Linked DNA regions of Homo sapiens. The protein of the gene in region 6 purifies or fractionates together with the protein of the main gene of each other region. This does not show direct contact. Each region holds a gene or a part of one and is shown on either strand. Other genes may lie near its edges.

Region 1 (3,500 bases), on a different chromosome or scaffold from region 6:
ATCCAGTCTGTCATTGATGGACATTTGGATTGGTTCCAAGTCTTTGCTATTGTGAATAGTGCTGCAGTAAACATACATGTGTATATGTCTTTATAGTAGCATGATTTATAATCCTTTGGGTATATACCCAGTAATGGGATCACTGGGTCAAATGGTATTTCTAGTTCTGATCCTTGAGGAATTGCCACACTGTCTTCCACAATGGTTGAACTAATTTACACTACCACCAATAGTGTAAAAGCATTCCTATTTTTCCACAACCTCTCCAGCACCTGTTGTTTCCTGACTTTTTAATGATTGCCATTCTAACTGGTGTGAGATGGTATCTCATTGTAGTTTGGATTTGCATTTCTCTGATGACCAGTGATGGTGAGCATTTTTCCATGTGTCTGTTGGCTTCATAAATGTCTTCTTTTGAGAAGTGTCTGTTCATATCCTTTGCCCACTTTTTGATGGTGTTATTTTTTTTCTTGTAAATTTGTTTAAGTTCTTTGTAGGTTCTGGATGTTAGCCCTTTGTCAGATGGGTAGTTTGCAAAAATTTTATCCCATTCTGTAGGTTGCCTGTTCACTCTGATGGTAGTTTCTTTTGCTGTGCAGAAGCTCTTTAGTTTAATTAGATCCCATTTGTCTATTTTGGCTTTTTTTGCCATTGCTTTTGGTGTTTTAGTCATGAAGTCTTTGCCCATGCCTATGTCCTGAATGGTATTGCCTAGGTTTTCTTCTAGGGTTTTTTATGGTTTTAGGTCTAACATTTAAGTCTTTAATCCATCTTGAATTAATTTTTGTATAAGGTGCAAGGAAGGGATCCAGTTTCACCTTTCTACGTATGGCTAGCCAGTTTTCCCAGCACCATTTATTAAATAGGGAATCCTTTCCCCATTTCTTGTTTTTGTCAGGTTTGTCAAAGATTAGATGGTTGTAGATGTGTGGTGTTATTTCTGAGGGCTCTGTTCTGTTCCATTGGTCTATGTATGTGTTTTGGTACCAGTACCATGCTGTTTTGCTTACTGTCGCCTTGTAGTATAGTTTGAAGTCAGGTAGCGTGATGCCTCCAGCTTTGTTCTTTTTGCTTAAGATTGTCTTGGCTATGCAGGCTCTTTTTTGGTTCCATATGAACTTTAAAGTAGTTTTTTCCAATTTTGTGAAGAAAGTCATTGGTAGCTTGATGGGGATGGCATTGAATCTATAAATTACCTTGGACAGTATGGCCCAGTGTGCTGTAATTCTTATTCATACATATTCAAATTATCCTTTTAGCCAATGGGAACCTGTGTCCTTTGAAAGCTTCCTATCTTGTATGACAAGATGTTTCAGGATCATTTTGTACATTTCCACTTTAGAAATGGAATTAGCCATTTCTCTAAGAAAACCTTCTTTTAAAAACTTTTTTAAAAATGGGAAAGAGTATTTCAAGACCCCAATCTAGGCACTAGAGATATTCATTGCTTCTCAGTTTGTCATTACTTTTAAGCCTTTTTGGTGGACAGAGCTAGGAAAATATGTGAACAAATATAAAATACTGAATTGTCATTTCACACTGAGTGTTCCTATTCAGATTCAAAGATTAGTTTGTATTTCGGGGTTCTTAATTTCTTCTGTATTACATCTGTATCTTCTTTTCATAACTGAAAATACAGAATTAGTGTATCCATAATTATCATTTGCTTTAATTCTACATTTCACATATAGTAATCTAGGAGTGATGATACGAATATCACCACCACAACCACTTTAGACGAGATCGGGTGTGTTCAGGATGGTATGGCCGTAGACAACAACCACTTTTAATTATTGAAAACTGTTTAAAAATATTTTTTATTTTTTGCATATGCTATTCACATTCTTCCCGATTTTTTTTCATGGTTGTCCTATATATTGTCAGAGCATATAATCATTACATACTATGCTGTCTCTCCTCCAGTCTTTACTTAGTCTTAATTCTGTTAGTAACCGTATATTTAATGCTCACCACTAGTTCTTATAATGATGTTTCTTTAGTCATTTGGATTGCCTCAAGTTTTGCCTCTAGTAAATTCTTTAGGAAAGGCTTAAGGGAATATTCATATTTCATGAATTTTCTTGCTCGTTCATAACATTTTGTCTGTGTTTTTTATATCTAAAGTTTGTGTTTGCCAGAAATAGAATCCTTGGCTCACTTTTTCTTTTCTTGAATATCTTAAATTTGTAACTCATTTTTTTTTTCTGGCAAAAACATTGCTGTTGAAAAATCTAGTGCTTTTTTTTCTTTATCTTACTGGTCATATGATCTTTTAGCCTAAAGCCTAAAGGATTTTTTTAAGTCCAGTAATTTTACTAGAGTGTTTTGTTGGTCATTCTGAGTTGACATTCTGAGGTACATTGTGGGCTCTTTCAAGATGTAGTTTCAAATCTTTTTAAAAAAAATTTTCAAATAAATATTCTTGGATTATGGTTTTTCATATTTGTGCTGTTTCTTTGCTTTGCTTTTCTTCTTCAGGGAATCCTGTTATTCACATTACTTATCTTCAATATTTATCTGTTTCTCGCAAATCCTATGTAACTCTTAATTTCTTACATTTTTTAAAAATAAACAAATTATTAGGAATTATTTCAGATCACTACAGAAAGTTTACTACAGAAAATTTGCAAAGATAGTGCAGAAGTCTGGTGTATCCTTTGCTTAGTATTCCCTAAGATTAACATGTGACATTAGCAGTGTACAAAATTAAGAAACCAACATTGGTACATTAATATTAACTGAACTCCAGACGTTGTTCACATTTCACCAGTTTCTCCATTAATGTCCATTTTCTGTTCCAGGATTCAATTCAGGATATCATGTTGCATTTAGTTCATTTCTTTTTCATTTGTTTTTTAAATATGAAGACAATTGTAGAGTCACATGCAGTTGTAGGAAATAATCAGAGCTCTTTTATACACTTTGTTGTTTCTTCCAGTGGTAACATTTTGCAAAACTAATACATAATATCACAATTAGGATATTGAGATAGATATATTCCCCAGTTTTACTTGTATATTCATTTGTATATGTATGTATGTGTATCATTAAGTTTTGCAGTGTTATATCACCTGTGTAGGTTCCTGTATCCACTGCCACAGTCAAGATATTGAACAGCTGCAACACCACAAGGATCCCTTGTGTTGCCTTGTTATGACCACAGTCACTTCCCACCCCAACCCCTCTCTAACCACTGGTAATCACTCATCTTTCCTCCATTTCTAAAATTTTGTCATTTCAAAAATGTTATAGAAGTATGGAATTGTATAATATGTAACCTTTTGGGACTGGCTTTTTTTCATTCAATGTAATTTTCTGGAGATCCATCTAAGTTGTTGGGTCCATCAGTAGTTCGTTGCTTTTTATTTCTGAGAAGTATGTGATGGGATGTATGTACCAGTTTGTTTAACCATTTGCCTGTATATATCAGTTTGCTTAACCGTCTATTAATAGAAATAAAGCTGCTATGAATGTTTATATACAGCAGGTTCTCTTGTGAA
Region 2 (4,031 bases), on a different chromosome or scaffold from region 6:
GAAAGAAATAGATTAATTCTTTGTTTAGGGAAAAAAAAAAAAAAAGAACGACTTATGCTAAGACATCTGTACCAATCTTCCTGAATAACTAAGTTAGGGAGGAAAGACAAATTTGGTGACTGTGGGGGCTAAAATACTAACTTATGGTCCTCTGAAATAGAAGGCGGTGCCTGATGGACATAGGTATCTCCGGTTACTTGGTTTGGCTGGGCGGTAGCAATTAAAGCTAATGGTTTTCCCAACTACACCCAAGCGCTAGATCTTTCTTTTCCTTCTGGCTCTACCTCTCTGATACTTCCCCGCACTGGCTTTTTGGGGCCAAAGAAAGTTGGGGCCCTCCTTCTCACTCTTCAGACCCCAGGGTGTCCAGCTTGGGTTTCGTTCGGCCGAGCTCCTTGACCCCCCGCGCCCGGGAGGGGATTGGCCTCTCAGCGAATCGCCCCAGGCCTCTGGGGACCCCAGTTCGCCAGTCCAGGTCGCCGGCCCTGTCACCGAGGCCTAACCCAAAAAGCTCGCGTCGTCCCCTCTGGAAAGCAACGCAGCTTCCTCCTTGGGCACAGTCCCCGCACCCTGGGTCCCGGCTGGTGCTGCGCCGGGTCCCTAAGACTTTGACTGGTTAGAGCAGGCGACGCCGAGAGCCAGGCCGCCTACAGGCGTCTCCAGCCCTACCCCATCGCCGGCTACAGAGCGGGAGCCCCGAGCCCCAGCGCCGCGCCGCGCGGGGAGAGAAGCAGCTGTTCCCAACAGCTGGGGGGCGGCGGCGCCCGGCGCCCCAGGTGCTGCCGCGGCCAATCGCAGGCGTCCGGCCCGCCCCCCTCCCCAGCCGGGCGTCGACCCCCGGCCCGCGGGGGAAGGGAGCAGAGAGGTGGAGAGCTGTCCTCGGCACTCGTCTTCCAGATCCCACGGCGGGAGGGACAGACCAGAGCCGAAGCTGCGCGGAGTTCCTCGCCCCTGGCCCCGCCGCCGCGCCCCCCGCCCGCTTCGGCGCTCGGACGCTCTTCCCGCGGACCCTCCCCACACCCCACCCAAGGCACCTGATTCCTAAGGAAGAAAAATCTACCTCTAAAGCACCCGCTTCTTCGCTTGAGAACTACCCTCTCTTTTCATTTTTGGCCTCCCCGCCGGGTGAGTGGAAACCGCTTGCACATTCTATAGAACCCGATTCTAATCCAGACGATCCGGAGAATTTGTACGGTGACCGGCAGGGGGGGCGGGAGGAGAGAGCGAAGTCAAGTCTCCAGGGCCGCTGGCGACTTCGGAAGCCGCGCGCCCGGCGCTCTCGGCCGCCCCCGGCCGCTCGCCCCCGCCGCGCCGCCGCCCTCGCCCCCGGGCTCGCCCTTGGCCCCCGGCGGCCGCGAAAGGGTGCGGGAGACGCGGAGCCGGAGGAGGAGGCGCAGCCGCTGCCCGAGCCGCAGCCGCAGCCGGAGCCCGAGCCGCGGGGCGGGTGCGAAGATGCACACGACCCAGAAGGACACGACGTACACCAAGATCTTCGTCGGGGGGCTGCCCTACCACACCACCGACGCCAGCCTGCGCAAGTACTTCGAGGTCTTCGGCGAGATCGAGGAGGCGGTGGTCATCACCGACCGGCAGACGGGCAAGTCCCGGGGCTATGGATTTGTAAGTTGCACGGACTGGGGGTGACGGGGAGGGACGGAGTGGCGGCTGACCCCGGGGATCGGGAGCTTGGAGTGAGGGGCTCGGCGTGACCCGTGAGGAGCCCCGCGGGTAGAGCGGCGCTGCCCCTTCGCTCCGGGGTGAACTGAAACTTTGCTAGGGGAGAGGGTCGGCGCCAGCCTCGCGGGGTTCGGAGAAGACCCAGCGCTGTGCGAGGTCGGGGGCCGGGCAGGGCAGAGCAGGGGTGAAAGGAGAGACCTGTAATGACGGCGGGATTTGGGGTGCGGAGGGTTGCGAGGGAGGGGCCGCAACCCTGAACAATTGCATTCCCGGGCTGGATGCCGGTTGTTAAGCGCGCTGTTGCTTTGTAAAAATGCGTGTGTTCTGGTGTTTTGGCTGGGGCAGGGAGGGGACACCCCACGAGGTCTGGGGCTGTTGCCCTTGTGTCATCCCCCCGCCTTTTAACTGCAAAGGTAGGTTCTTTTAAATCATGATCCTAGGGCTCTTTGCCGAACTGAAACAGAGCATATTAAGCTTCCTTCCTAGAGATTTAAGCGTGCAAATTCAGCTGCCGAAGAGCAGGGAGCCCCAGAGTAGGACAATAGCTATTGTCGTTGGGGAGTGTTTTCGAGGTTGGGAGCGTTGGGCGGATGTAAGGCTGGACTTTCTTTAAAGCAAACGGTGCCTCTGAGGCTGAGTAGGGACCTGGGGGGCGGGGGATTCGGGGGAAGGAGGATCTAGAGTTCCAAGAATTTAGGCTTCCAAATCTCGGCTAGGCCCTACTAACACCCTTAAGATTTCGGCGGTGGGGTGGGGGGAGGCAGGGTTAGAGGGTTTCTTTCTTTTTTCCTTCGTCTACCCGCCCCCCCCCCCCACGCCCCCGCCCGCCTGTTAAAAATGGGAGATCAAGGAGGAGGGTCCAGCCAAAAGAAGCAAAGAATAGAAAAAAAGTTTGATCTCAGTTTTATCATGAATGACTTCTCCATTGTGATTCTTGATTTCCTTCATGGGTTAATTTAGAGGTTATGTATGTATGTCTGTGTGTGTCTGTTGCTAAGGTCACCATGGCTGACCGGGCTGCTGCCGAAAGGGCCTGCAAGGATCCCAATCCCATCATTGATGGCAGAAAGGCCAACGTGAACCTGGCATACTTAGGAGCAAAACCAAGGATCATGCAACCAGGTGAGAAATGTCTGTCTCCCCTACCCCCCTCTCCAAGAACCCCCCATTTATGGGTGGGATGATTCTCTAATTTAGAAGACATTGTCTCTTTCTGTAGATGTGTTTAGTAAACTTGAACCATGGCTTGTTATTCTACCAAGGCATTAAACATAAATGAGAGTTGTAAATACTCCTCTCAAGGCTTGAAATGTACCTGTGTGCAAAAATGGATCTTGGGGGTCGTGCAGGAAGAAGAGTTAGTCATGTCTCACCTGTTTCCTATATGGCATACATTTGTAGTCTGCTCTCAATTTTCCAATTTTTAGCCACCTGTAGATAATTCACATGTGGATTATATAGGCCAAATTTGTCGACTTCAGCTAATATACTTCCCTACTTAGTGGTGTCTCTCCTTTTAGCACCAGTTGCACTGTGCTCAGAGCAGGCAGTCTGACTTGAACACAGACCCAAGGGAAGCATTAAGGGGTAGGGGCGATGTCCAAATGGTAAAGGTTTTGTTTTTTTTTGAGATGGAGTTTCGTTCTTGTTGCCCAGGCTGGAGTGCAATGACGCGATCTAGGCTCACTGCAACCTCCGCCTCCTGGGTTCAAGTGATTGTCCTGCCTCAGCCTCCCAAGTAGCTGGGATTACAGGAATGTGTCACCACACCCAGCTAATTTTGTATTTTTAGTAGAGACGGGGTTTCACTGTGTTGGTCAGGCTGGTCTTGAACTCCTGACCTCAGGTGATCCACCCGCCTTGGCCTCCTAAAGTGCTGGGATTACAGGCGTGAGCCACCGCGCCTGGCCCAAAATGGTAAACCTTCAACATAAAATCACAGAGTATTAGCAATCAAAGAAAACAGAAATTGCACCTACTCAAGAACCCTATGCTACAGACAAAGAAACTGATGCTTAGAGATGAGAAATATTTTACTTAAGTCATGTAGCTATTAGTTGCCAAAAGGGAGCAGTTTTTTGTCTATGGGAAAACAATACCTCTTGGATTATTTACAACACTGCCCTTTGCATTAGCACAAATAGTTGAGAGTTGATTTTTAAGCAAATATAATATTTTCTTTGGTCAGGCAACTTTACTTGTAAAGTTTGATTAAATCATATACTCTTCACTCCTAAGCCTTTCCATCTGAAATTTTGGGAAGAGGTTGACACTTCCATCCAAACGGGTTTAAAAGGAAACTAGGTTGTCAAGAAAATGAGTGTTTGTGCAAATATTCATGGGCGTTAAAAAAA
Region 3 (3,196 bases), on a different chromosome or scaffold from region 6:
TCTCCCGAGTAGCTGGGACTACAGGCGCCCGCCACCACGCCCGGCTTATTTTTTTGTATTTTTTTTAGTAGAGACGGGGTTTCACCGTGTTAGCCAGGATGGTCTCGATCTCCTCATCTTGTGATCTGTCCGCCTCGGCCTCCCAAAGTGCTGGGATTACAGGCGTGAGCCACCACGCCCGGCCCAGTGGAGGCTTTTCTACTCTGCCTGATGATTGAGTTCAGTTGCAATCTTAGCATTCACGCGGCAACTCAGACTCCAGCTATGAAGCCTGGCCTGGCAGTGGATGAACTTTGTACTTCAGAAATTGGTTTAGGTACATTTATAGTTGCTATTCCGAAGCCCCCAGAACATGCTGCGAGAGACAGAAAGGAACAGCTGGGAAATTCTGGGGCACCCTTGCAGCATACTGACCTAATTTGAAACGAAGATGTTGCCCATGATTTTATCAGTCACCACCCTGGGCATGGGGAAGTGTTACAACACAGTAGACAATAACATTCTTTCCTATAAAATTTTATTTATTACATAAAAAATTCTATACATTTGTTAGACTAAAATACAGTTTTCATTATAATTCTGGCAACTGAGTCAGTACACAGAGAAAACTTAGCATTAGATCAGCACTTTTCTTTCTAGTTCGTATTTCTGCACAAGAAAAACATTTCAAAGCTCCGTTTCATATAGGCTGATTGTTCTCTGAAGCCAGATGGAATTCCATCCAATTCAGAGCTCTTGGAAGTTAATTTCCCAGCAAGATTTGATAACTCCAACTCCAGAAAGTTAATTGCTTAATATACATATTTTTAAAGTCCTCTGAGAGCATAATGCTCCATCTGCAAAGTCTGCACTGTGTCAATAATGACCGTCACAAATACTAGGGCTACAACTGTGTCTGTGGGGCATGTTCAAGCACCTACATGTTTGTTCCCCCACATGAATACAGTGTAGTGACACTGTAATAAGAAAAAAATCCAAAATAATGGTAAGGTAAATGATTCCAAACTATGAATTCATGGAAGGCTTAACTGTGATCCTCCAGTTTATAATGGACAAAGACAAGACAAGATACAAAAATTCATTTTGGCACTATGAAATAGGATGCAAATGGCAAAAAAAAAAAAAGACAAAAAGGCATCAGATTGAGAAATATGTGGCACCAAAACATACTTCTCATGCCACATTACACAGCTGCGAGAAATCAAGACACACCGATGTGTGTTTTCTGCTCATATCACCCCATATGCTGGGCTGGGCTTGACACTGGATGTGAAGACTCAGTGCCTGAGAGATCAATAGCAGGTCCCTACTGTATTGACTGATCTTTAAATTTGGCCGCCTTATTATTCTAGGAGCTCTATTCTAAACTCAAGGAGTTCAGAAAGGCTGTGCCAGCCAGTAAGTAAAGTTGGACCTTTGGTCTTCAGAAGATAGGGTTTTGTCTTTGGTTGTTTTTTGAAGCCCCTGTCATTTTGCTTGATGCCCTTCACACTTTTCTCCCTGCCTTTTTGTTAAAGTTTTTTTCTCCTGTAATAAAATCAGTTAATAACCACTGAACTAACTTCTTTAGATTAAAGCTCTATTAGAAGTGCATTCAGTGGTCCAGAATATTCTGAGAAAGTATAACAACTTCTTTCATTATGGAGCTCTCAGTATCTTTTTATAGGGAAGAAGTCAGAAAACTCCAACAACACAACACAATCTAGTAGCATTAAGGCAACACAGCAGAAGAAAAGTTAACTGTCCCCATGTGATCATCTCTGAAAATCAAAATAGGCAAAAACAATAGGGGCCAAAAACCAAGTTCTGAGCACAGACTACAGGAACCTAGAGGATGGGGGAAAATCTACTTAATAGTCCCTGTTTCAAATCACCAGCCCCCAAAGCTATCCTATTATTGTCACATTCCTGTGGGGTATCTAATACAATTTACAAAAAAAAAAAAAAAGTCACCACCGGATTATCAACATGGTAAATGAAGAAGGAGCTCACATTTTCTAGTGGCAACTAGAATGATCCATGGAACCCATTCTATCTGCCCAATTATTCCCAAGTCTTCTTTTCAATGTCTACTTTTTTTTTACTCATATGATTTAACACATGCTCCTGAAACGACAGTTCAAATTATAATCCTAGCTGACAGGATGGGTGGATCAGATTCATACACGAAGGTCAGAATATTCCCTTTAAGTCTTACACTTCTGTGACAAAAGGGCATATCACATTTAGATACTTAGACTGGACTTACGCCCTTTTCTATCCAACATGGGAATTTCCACCAGTGGTCTCTGCATTTACTACTGTGGAAGGTTCATTAAAACTCTTCTAGGCCGGGCGCGGTGGCTCATGCCTGTAATCCCAGCACTTTGGGAGGCTGAGGCGGGTGGATCACCTGAGGTCAGGAGTTCGAGATTGGCCTGGCCAACGTGGTGAAACCCCGTCTCTACTAAAAATACAAAAATTAGCTGGGTGTGGTGGCACATGCCTGTGGTCCCAGCTACTCAGGAGGCTGATGCAGGAGAATCACTTGAACCTGGGAGGTGGAGGTTGCAGTGAGCTAAGATTGAGCCACTGCACTCTAAGCTGGCGATAGAGCGAGACTCCGTCTCAAAAAAACACCAAAAACAAACAAAAAAAACCCCCAAACTTTTCTAGGAGTGTGGGGTGGGGTAGGGGGCTGACTTTTCTCCTTTCTTCACCAGCCAGTTATATTTCCACTTTCTTCAGCCTGAAAAAGTAGGAAATGGTTTGATGCCTGACTATAAGTCATGAGCCACTGGGATCAAATTTCACAAGAACTTCAAACCCCTTGATGAGTTTCTGCCTGCTTTTTCAAGGGCCCAGGGAGCCTTCCATGTAGATGCAGCACCCTTACCTAATAGTAAGGTGCAGATGTGAAGAAATCCACATGCTTCCCTAAAGAAGATAGAGTAGGTAAGGGACTGGGGGTGGAGTTCTATTGGCAGAGGAATCTGAAGCTGCTCTAGTGGGTGACTGGAAAACACTAAAACAGAACACACCTCCGTGATTTATGCAGGAAGAAAAAACATCTTTTGCATTTCTACCTTCAGCATCTGCTCCTCCAACTTTCTACCAAATTTATTTTTTGCCAACTATGGACTACCCTTGAGTTTGCTAATTTATCATCATCTTCAACTGTTGTTGGAACTGGACATGTTGACAAATATATTTTAAG
Region 4 (2,543 bases), on a different chromosome or scaffold from region 6:
AATTAGTTATTTTATTTCCCACAGAAATATCTGCATTATCTTCCATTCTAATAAGTTGAAGACACAAACATTTCAGTCTGAATGAACCAAATTGTTTGGGGACAGAGAAGAAAAGTGATGAACAGAGTTCATCTGATTTGGTATAGCAATAATCAATCATCTTTTAAGTAATGGTGACGTTTAAATGGAAAAAACTATGCTCCTAATTCATGGTACAATTTTTCATTACATCATTTTCTCTAAAAATTATTTTGGGTAAAAAAGTATTTGGCTTATTATGCCTACAAAAAGGCAAACCATTTCATTATATTAATATTCATTTTTAAATACCAATGACATTATTTTATGGAATTTATTGATAACTGCTTCTGAATAAAGTTCAAAAAAGCAATTTCTTAAAAGTAAAAGAGTGCTTCTGAGGTCTTTAAGTATTTTTGGTACAAAAAATAATAGTGTTTTTGTCAATGGTTATTCAATATTTTGCTGTAAATTAAAAAGAATTGTTTCTCACATCAAATGGTTCCATTAGGCACATTCAAGTAAAATCATAAAATATCCAAGTTAAACAATGACACAGCCAAGCATGTGGCTTGATAAAAGTTAAGAGTTTGTCCATTCTCTGGAATGGAATAAAATTGTCACTTCCCTTAACCCGAGACTCGTGGTTTTGTTGTTCATATCCATTTCTAACATACAGATAAGTTTCTTAAAAAAACAAAACAAAACAAAAAAGTTCACTTATTCTGCACTCAGAAGAACCAGCGAGGAATCTGCACTTCAAAAGGAAGTGAAACTGAAAACATTAGGTGAAATTTCATAGTAGTTGAGTTTACTCAACACTGGCATCAGATGGACTGAGTTTGAGTTTGAGTGGTGCCAATTAATGGCCACCTCCAGGTGCATTGTGTACCCAATCCAAAACAATCAAGGCCATGCTTCCGGTCATCACCAGTACACCACTTAACAGGAAGAACAAAGCCTGCAAAGAGCATAGAGAAAATTGATCAGCAAGTAATAAAACATATATGCTAAACATTTCTTCTATTTTTTGAAATGTGCTTTAATTACTAAAATCTATCCACTATATAATCTATAGAAAGAATATTTAACTTGCTAAATATAAACTCCTAAGTGATCAGTATGTTATCTGCAGTACACAATAACTACCTTTGAGGCCTTCTGAACTTTTTCACTTTTTCATTCCTTTGTCTCAAGTGACAGGGAATTTTCTTGCTAAACAAACTGCTTCATATAGAACTGGACTGGATTTTTTTTTGCAATTTTTTAGAATGAAAGTCAAGTCACAAAATCAAACCCAAATCATCCTAAAATGCAGCAAAAGTCAAAGCCAGAGGTCTTTCCAGGAAATACTAATTCCTAAATCCTACCCTTCAATACTGCCACTATGTAATTTAGAGTAAAACAAGATGACAGTTGTTGGTTTATAAACAATTCTAGTACTTTAATCAGAGCAGAATGAAGGAGAAAATAATGACTAAAAAGCAGTCTTTTTCCTAAATATCACCACCAGGATTCTGGTTCTAGGAACCACATCATTTGTGGTTAGCACATCATTCTCTGTCACCAACTGGTACTACACTTTAGAGTAGATACATAATAGTAAACACCATGAAGAGACGGCCTCCCTGAGAGCTTCGCTCTGAAGATGGTCAGTCTCATTCAACTAAACAGCCCTTCCTTCTCTTTTATATATTCAATGCCCATTTAAGTGCCTGTCACACAGTAGGCAGTCCAGTGAAAACTGGTTGAACAAATGTTGAAAGCTGAGTATCTCATCTAGTCTTCATCCCTATTCCTATCTCCAAAGTATCTAATAACTTTATTGCAATTAATTTAAGTGTTCATTAGATGGCAAACTATCTTTCCCCTTCCCTCTGCAATCTTCCATCTGTGAAGTATACCATTACAGAAATGTTTGCTGGAAACTTAAAAGTGAAACCATAACAAATAACAGCTATGAGAATAAAATTAAAATCAGTTGGGGAAATTTATGATATTATTACTGTTTCTATGGTTATAATCTTTCACTCACCCCAATCTTTTGTACAGATTTCATAGGTTCTTTCTTCACCAACTTGATATAGAAGGCAGAAGGAAGAATAAAAATCAACATAGAAGCTGCAGATGCACCTGTAAAACAACATTTATGTTTCTTGAGGATTCAATGAACCACTCGTCATTCATTCTTTAAATCTTAAAATCCCTGATGTTTGAATCCACTTGGATACTTTCTAAAACTTACCAATAAAACCAAAGATATCCCTAATAGTTGGGACAAAGATGACAAGTAAATTGGTAAATGCCAAGATAGACACTGTAATGAGACTATGACGCCACCAACTGAAATCTTTTGATGCACACAACAAGTGAGTTACAGAACTCCGGATCTGCAAAAAAAATAAATAAAATGTATTTTAAAAATAGCAGCAATATAAAATTTAAAAATCCAGCTTCAATGAATGAAAAGAATGCCCAAGTAACAAGGAATCTATCCAAAATAGTAACTATTTCTAAATAAAACT
Region 5 (3,500 bases), on a different chromosome or scaffold from region 6:
CAACAGTCCACTTTTCTTCATTAATTAATGCAGCACCCTGAGTGTGGTTTCAGTTTTGTTTGATGGTCCATGCTTATAACATTGTGGATAATGGACATACATACACGCCAGGTGTTGTGGCTCATGCTGGTAATCCCAGTGCTTTGGGAGGCCAAGGCAGGAGGATCACTTGAGCCTCAAAATTCAAGGTTACAGTGAGCTATGATAGTGCCAATGCACTCCAGACTGAGCAATAGAGTAAGGCCCTGTCCCCTCCAAAATAAAAATAAAAATAAGAAGGCATATACACATTTCACCGTGTACTCTCCACAGAGCCGTCCCTTCAAATTCTGTTTCAAAAAAACTCTCCATATACTTATATGAAGATTATTTCATTTTCACCTGTTTCAAAGTCTCAGGTGCAGTAAAAGTTACCCCAAGGTATATAGGTGTTAGACATATGTTATCCAACATGGTAGTCACAAGTCATATTAAGCACTTGTAATGTGGCTGGTCTGATTTGAGATGTCCTGTAAGTGTAAAATATTCATTGAATTTCAAACCCTTTGTATAAAAAAAAGGGCTGCAAAATATCTCATTAATAAATTTTATATTAATTGTATGTTGACATGACAATATTTGGATACACTGAGTTAAATAAAATACATTAATATTCATTATGCCTGCTCTTCTTACCTTTTTTTTTTTTTTTTTTTTTTTTTGAGATGGAGTCTCGCTCTGTCGCCCAGGCTGGAGTGCAATAGGGCAATCTCGGCTCATTGCAACCTCCGCCTCCCGGGTTCTAGCGATTCTCCTGCCTCAGCCTCCTGAGCAGCTGAGATCACAGGCATGTGCCAACATGCCCAGCTAATTTTTGTATTTTCAGTAGAGACAGGGTTTTGCCATGTTGGCCAGGCTGGTCTCGAACTCCTGACCTCAGGTGATCCACCTGCCTCGGCCTCCCAAAGTGCTAGGATTACAGGTGTGAGCCACTGCCCCCGGCCTCTCTTTACTTTTTTAACATAGCTACTAGAGAATTTAAAATGATATATGTGGCTTGAAATTTGTGGTTCACATTGTATTTCAACTGGATAGTGCTATTCTAAATTTGAGGTCAGCTGACTTTCTTGGGAAAAGAAAAATAGCCAGATGGTAAATATTTTAGGTTTTGCAGGGACACTTTGAAACAGCCATAGGGACAACACATAACTGAATGGGTGTGGCCGTGGTCCCATACAACTTTGGTTACAAAAACAGGCAGCTGACTGGACAGGCCCACAGGCCTATAGTTTGCGAACTGCTTTTCTAAATTATCAAGCTTTTTTTTTGAGACTGAGTCTCCCTCTATCGCCCAGGCTCAAGTGCAGTGGCACAATCTCAGCTCACTGCAACCTCTGCCTCCCAGGTTCAAGTGATTCTCGTGCCTCAGCCTCCTGAGTACCTGGGACTACAGGCACGTGCCACCACACCCGGGTAATTTTTATATTTTTAGTAGAGACCGAGTTTCACCATGTTGGCCAGGCTGCTCTCGAACTTCTGACCTCAGGTGATCCACCCACCTCGGCCTTCCAAAGTGCTGGGATTACAGCATGAGCCTACAGCGCCTGGCCAATTATCAAGCTATTATCCCAGATAGAGTTTTGAAGAACAAAAGGTGACAGAAGATATGCTTTGTTAGGAGTTCTCATATAGGAGAAACGGGGTGAATAGCTCAACTGGGCATCATTTCATATGTGTGTAGTTGATGGGGCTTGATTCTGTATTTTTCTAAAAGGTTCCCTGGTGGAGAGTGTTGACATTTTGCTATTGTTTCTTTCAGAAAAGATCTAAGTCAGAGGATAACATGAAGTTAAGCTAGGCAAAGAGATCAAATTTTAAGGACTGAGATGGATTGTTTGACAAGTAGGAGAAGCTTGAATGACAGCTGGAGTACAAGAGAAGAGAAACTTCGGGGTGGGGCAATGTTTCCTTAAGTTAATGAGGGTGTGTTGGCCCCAAAGAGGGCCTCAAAATCACCCTGCATGGCCTGTGCAGAACATGGTCTAAACCCTTCAAGAAGGTGCTTTGAGGCACCCATGCAATGAAGGAAGCTGGCATCCGGTGGCTTGTAGCAGACCTGTGGGCAGCTGATTCACCACGAGTCGTGGCTACCTTTCCTATGCACAAAACCAACACTGATTAGCAACACATCACACTCTAAATATTGATTAAGCTGAAGCTGACTTCCTGGCTCAAGTCATGTGTGTGGTTATAAGCTGTTTCCTGCCAGGAAAATAAGGCAATTAACTTGAAGAGTTCCAGCTACAGGCATGACACGTGTCCAGCCTTCATAGGTATTTTCACATGCCAGGTTGCATTAACACAAGCTAAAAATTTATCTGCATGTTCCTTTGTTTAGAAATTATGAGTTCAGAGTCCATGTCATTGTTATGTTTCCAGCTTCTAAGATAGAGTCTGACACACAGTAAGAATTTAGTAAGTGTTTCTTGCTGAAATAAAGCACTGGGGCTGGGCACGGTGGCTCATGCCTGTAATCCCAGCACTTTGGGAGGCCGAGGCGGGTGGATCACCTGAGGTCAGGAGTTTGAGACCAGCCTGGTCAACAAGGTGAAACCTTGTCTCTGCTAAAAATACAAAAAAAAAGTTAGCCAGGTGTGGTGGCGGGCACCGGTAATCCCAGCTACCTGGGAGGCTAAAGCAGGAGAATCACTTGAAACTGGGAGGTGGAGGTTGCAGTGAGCCGAGATTGTGCCACTGCACTCCAGCCTGGACAACAGAGCGAGATTCCGTCTCAGGAAAAAAAAAAAGCACTGGGCATGGGCATTTCTGCCAGGTGCCTCAGTGGCCCTGAGGGCACTTGCATATAAACCAAATGACTTGATCAGTTTTGAGTCCCCACTGCCTTCTTCTTATACTCGTAAGTTCTCTTGTAAGGGGCCCCCATCATTTCTCTATTTTTCTCCCAGCCTCGTTAATTCCTTCCAAAGAGCCCTTACCCTTTGGCACCTCATTGGTCCCTGGGGATCAGAGCTGAGCTGGGGAACTGTGAGGTCAGAGAAGGTGGCACCTTGGCACCCACCTTAACCATTTGGGGCAAACTTCTCCCAGCTATTTGGTCCCTCTAGACCTTTTCAGACAACTGCCCTACATTCTAGACCGTTTCCATTTCTCCACACCAAAAATACAAATTAAATTTTTAAGATTTCTCATCCCTCGACCCTCTGCTGAATTCCTGTTCATCTGGCAAGTTCATCCATGTTACTGTGATAATGAAAAAATACTGAGGTAAGGTCACGTATCTGTATTTCTACACCAGCTTTGTGGAGATAATGCCTTAAAAGCACAGTCTAAATGCACCGCAACTCTAAGCAAGATATTTGGGGTGAAGAGGGGCATCTGTGCCCCTCAAATTATGTGGTTTAGGCAGCTACAATAGATGTTCCACCTTGAAAGCAACATACTGATCCATTTTGCACGCAACAGAGCTGGGCCCTGAAAAATGCTTGAGCCCTCAAATATGT
Region 6 (3,972 bases):
GGAGGTGGTCTCTGGAGATGAGGTGGGAAACAGCTCTCATCAGGGACTGCCCTGAGTGAATTCCACAGCTGAACCTGGCCTGAGTGTTAGGGTAGATGAAGGTGGGTCACCTAAGAATTTCCCCCCACACACAACCCAAAGTCAAATTCTGCCCCAGAGGTAAGATCAGGCCTGAGAGGGCTGAACCATCTCAGGGACAAGGCAAATGAGAGAGGAAGGCCGTAGGGAAGGGCTTCTCTCCTACCTCCCACGTCTTTATCTGTCCAAATCCTTGCTATTTCCCAAGGCCCCTCTCGGTTGCGTTCTTCTGCAGGGGATTCCCCCCACTTCTACTTCAGGAAACAACCCATGCTTCCTTTGAGCAGCTCACATCTAAGCGTACGCTCTGTGCCAGTCCTTAGGTAAAATGTTTTACTTTGTGCCGGGAGCGGTGGCTCACGCCTGTAATCCCAGCACTTTGGGAGGCCAGACGGTCGGATCACCTGAGGTCAGGAGTTAGAGAGCAGCCCGGCCAACATGGTGAAACCCCGTCTCTACTAAAAATACAAAAATTAGCTGGGCGTGGTGGTGCACGCCTGTTATCCCAGCTACTCAAGCGGCTGAGGCAGGAGAATCACTGTAACGCGGAAGGCGGAAGTTGCAGTGAGCCGAAATTGCGCCACTGCACTCCAGCCTGGGTGACAGAACGAGACTCCGTCTCAAAAAATAAAAAATAAAAAATAAATGCTTTATTTTGATTATCCCATTTAAACCTAGAAAACTCTCTTGCTGCTTTGGGAGCAAAAAGCCTGCGCTCTGGAATCTAAGAAACGTGAATTCAAATCTGTCCCCTGCCATTGCCTTTGGTAAATCGCTTAACTTCTCTGAAGCTCAGATGCCTCAAACGACTTCTTCCCGCGGTGTGTGTCAGGGGAGGTTGGGGAGCTGGGGTTGTGAGCAGTGTGGGTCTAGCACACTGCAGACGCTCCGCAAACGGTCAATAAACGCTGAGGGGCCAAAAGCCACTCCTCAGGACGCGCGGCGGAGAGACCTAGCCTCACCCCAGCCTCGCCCCGCGCAGTTGTTTACAAGCGCTCGCGGCGGATGAGCTCATACGAGTGGCGGCGGCGGCCAATAGGCTTTGAGCCCCGCGGCCTGGAGACAGCCCTGGCCAATCGGACGGCGCGGAGGCGGAGCGGGGCCGGCCGGCATCGCGCGGCCGCACGTGCGCCACGAGTGTCTCAGCCGCTTCCTGTCAGCGCCAGGAGCGGGGATTCCCGGGGTCCCGGGCAGGTACCTGGACAGCGCAGGTCCTCGCAAGGCCGTTTCTCAGGGACGCCGGCCTCGCCACTGACGTAGCACCAGGGCCCGCGCGGGTCCTCGTCCGGGTTTCGGCAGTAACTGTGATTGCCGGCCCCTAAGAGAGGAGAGAAGGAAATGTGTGCCGGGGCTGGCACCGGGAACGCGGCCGCCGCCCGCCAGCCCCGGGGCCGTCCCCCGGAGGACACTTACCCGACACGGGGGCCGAGGCCAGCCCGCTCTGCGCGTCCAGCCAGTTGAGGCAGCGGAGGCCCGGCGCGGGGGAGGTCTGGTCCTCCCGGTACAGGTGGCCGTTGTCCCAGAAACAGCCTGTGAGGAAAAGAAGCCCCCGGACACAGAATAGCGGGCAGCGAACGGAAGACGCCCAGCGTGGCGGACAGGGGAGCCGGGACCACCCGGGCTGAACCTCAGCCTGGTTAGGGGACCCCGGGCCCTGCTGGGCCTCCCTCTCCTCTCGTGGCAACACCCCCACGCCCCACGCACCCCCCCCCCCCAACTCCACGCACACCTCAGGGTGTGAAGCCCCCAGCCTGTGCCTGTCCCCCAGTCAACGCTCAGAGACTGTTAGGTTTTATTTATTTTTGAAACCTGGAAAGCGCTGCAGAAGTGCAAAGCGTTGTTACTCTTGAACTTGTGACCACTTTGGAGGAGGAGATGGAGAGGAGGAGGCCTGGCTTAGGGTCCCTTTGAGGAGCTGGGAGTTTTGGGACGGGGGGCGCCCAGACGTGACATTTGTCCCTGTGTTGTAATGGCCACGTTACATAAACTCCGGTGTTTCCTCCTTCACGGATACGGCCACCTTCTGCCCGTTTAAAAGGCAAATACTCCCTCCCAGGAGAATTCTCCAGGAGCCTTGACTCCGTCAGGCAAAAGATTCAAGACAGCCTCAAACGGAGGAAACCGGCCTCATCGCTGACTGGATGAGACTCCAAGCTCCCACTCCCCTCTGCAGGAGAACCACAGAAGGAGGCTGGGGAAGGAGGACCACACCATGCAAAGGGCTTAGAAAGAACAGGACTTGGGGAGTAGGGGAGATGAACCCCCAAGCTCCATCCACTCATGAGCAAGGAAAGGCAGAGAGAAAGTGGCTTCTTGCCTTTGTTCTTAATGGCAAAGATGGAGCTGCAAGCCCCTGACAAGGAAAGGAGGGGTGGAAAAGCTTTCACGGGACAACAGAAACCGGCTAAACGCTTCGTTTCCTGTCATCCTGGCCCTGTTTGGGAAATAGGGGGCTTTACCCCTTCTGTTTCATGAAGTTGCTGCGGAAAGGAAAGATTGTAATCTCACCTCCAGATCCATAGGCTTCTGCTAGGAGCATGTTGCTGACGAGGAATGCTTGTACCCAGGCCAACAGCATCCTTGCCTCCTTCGTCTTGCAGGTGATTGAACGACCAGTGTTTAACCGAGGCCCCCTTGGCGGCGGCTCTGCCTCCCAGTCCCAGCCTTGCAGTCAGACCTGCCCTTGTTATGCTGTTCTGGTAAACAGCCTCTCTTTAGAACTGGGAGCTTCCCAGCTAGCTTGCTGCAGCGCGAGCTGTTTTTCAGCTGAAAGGCGCCCCCTGGGTCCTAAGCCTCCTAGGTCATGCAAAATCTAACTGAGCCAAGAAAGGAACTCAGCCAAGAGATATGCAGGTTGTGCTTAGCAGCCGATCAGTTTGAGACCTGCGAGGCCGCATCCCCAGGGTTTTTCATCTCTTCTGTTTCCATTTGTGTGAGTACAGAAAAAATAATTCTATCAAGGGGCATCATGGGATGTGGGAAATTATAAGCACTAAAACACAGAACAACTTAGGGAGCTATGCACCCAGGAGGAATTCATGACCACATAGGGGGGAAAAAATAAGAGTTTCTGGTGGGGAGTGGAGTAATAGTTTTTTTTTTTTTCTTTTCTTTTCTTTTTGAGACAGAGTTTCACACTGTCGCCCGGGCTGGAGTGCAATGGCACAATCTCGGCTCACTGCAACCACCTGCCGGGTTCTCGCAATTCTGCCTCAGTCTCCGGAGTAGCTGGATTTTTTTTTTCCCTCACTCTATAGGAAATCCATTTGCTGTAATTTATATCCATCATTAAATCTCACCATATCCATTTGACTTAGGCCTTTTGGAGTTAGGCAGAAGGGCCCTTCTTCCTGTTTGGCTGACAGCTCCCAGGCAGCCTCAGTAAACTGAGAGAGAGAGCAGAGTGATTCGTCAAGACTACCTTGTGACAGGGGCACACCACCACAACCCAGCTAATTTTTTGTATTTTTAATAGAGACGGGGGTTTCACTGTGTTGGCCAGACTGGTCTTGAACTCCTGACCTCGTAATCCACCTGCCTCGGCCTCCCAAAGTGTTGGAATTACAGGTGTGAGCCACCGCGTTCGGCCGAGTAACACTTTATACCCATCCTTGAAAAAGAAAAAGGGCCTTTATGAACACTGACACTTAAAAAAAAAAAAAAAAAAAAAAAAAAAAAAAAACAGTGTAACTTGGCCAGGGTCAAATCTGTCACATTGCTTTTTCTTACATTTGAGGTTTTTTGGGGTGTTGTATATAGTAGGACTATAGAAGGAGTATCTTTAGTTGAAAACACATGTTATGCAAACATGGAAAAATTTGCTCAGCTACATTGTAATAGTCTACCCTTTCTGCCAGCCCTAAATTGTATAGAGGAATTTAAGTAAAATGTTTG

Evidence for each region.
Region 1: the proteins of PIK3IP1 (region 6) and GOLGB1 purify together in Homo sapiens (affinity purification with mass spectrometry; one large-scale study listed by BioGRID and IntAct). This does not show direct contact.
Region 2: the proteins of PIK3IP1 (region 6) and RBM24 purify together in Homo sapiens (affinity purification with mass spectrometry; one large-scale study listed by BioGRID and IntAct). This does not show direct contact.
Region 3: the proteins of PIK3IP1 (region 6) and SLC44A1 purify together in Homo sapiens (affinity purification with mass spectrometry; one large-scale study listed by BioGRID and IntAct). This does not show direct contact.
Region 4: the proteins of PIK3IP1 (region 6) and SLC38A2 purify together in Homo sapiens (affinity purification with mass spectrometry; one large-scale study listed by BioGRID and IntAct). This does not show direct contact.
Region 5: the proteins of PIK3IP1 (region 6) and SEL1L3 purify together in Homo sapiens (co-immunoprecipitation; one large-scale study listed by IntAct). This does not show direct contact.

What each region holds. Positions count from the first base shown.
Region 1 is NC_000003.12:121,739,742-121,743,241, reverse strand, and holds part of GOLGB1 (golgin subfamily B member 1), read left to right. Parts: intron 1-3,500. UniProt on the Homo sapiens protein: May participate in forming intercisternal cross-bridges of the Golgi complex.
Region 2 is NC_000006.12:17,280,130-17,284,160, forward strand, and holds the start of RBM24 (RNA-binding protein 24), read left to right. Parts: upstream 1-1,231; 5' UTR 1,232-1,452; coding exon 1,453-1,620; intron 1,621-1,934; exon of another isoform or gene 1,935-2,090; intron 2,091-2,571; exon of another isoform or gene 2,572-2,642; coding exon of another isoform or gene 2,643-2,675; coding exon 2,676-2,799; intron 2,800-4,031. UniProt on the Homo sapiens protein: Multifunctional RNA-binding protein involved in the regulation of pre-mRNA splicing, mRNA stability and mRNA translation important for cell fate decision and differentiation. Plays a major role in pre-mRNA alternative splicing regulation.
Region 3 is NC_000009.12:105,394,651-105,397,846, reverse strand, and holds the end of SLC44A1 (choline transporter-like protein 1), read right to left. Parts: 3' UTR 501-3,196; downstream 1-500.
Region 4 is NC_000012.12:46,360,231-46,362,773, forward strand, and holds part of SLC38A2 (sodium-coupled neutral amino acid symporter 2), read right to left. Parts: intron 2,409-2,543; coding exon 2,264-2,408; intron 2,152-2,263; coding exon 2,054-2,151; intron 980-2,053; coding exon 881-979; 3' UTR 1-880. UniProt on the Homo sapiens protein: Symporter that cotransports neutral amino acids and sodium ions from the extracellular to the intracellular side of the cell membrane.
Region 5 is NC_000004.12:25,852,989-25,856,488, forward strand, and holds part of SEL1L3 (protein sel-1 homolog 3), read right to left. Parts: intron 1-3,500.
Region 6 is NC_000022.11:31,289,689-31,293,660, forward strand, and holds the start of PIK3IP1 (phosphoinositide-3-kinase-interacting protein 1 isoform 1 precursor), read right to left. Parts: upstream 2,801-3,972; 5' UTR 2,657-2,800; coding exon 2,587-2,656; intron 1,609-2,586; coding exon 1,492-1,608; intron 1,397-1,491; coding exon 1,277-1,396; intron 12-1,276; coding exon 1-11. UniProt on the Homo sapiens protein: Negative regulator of hepatic phosphatidylinositol 3-kinase (PI3K) activity.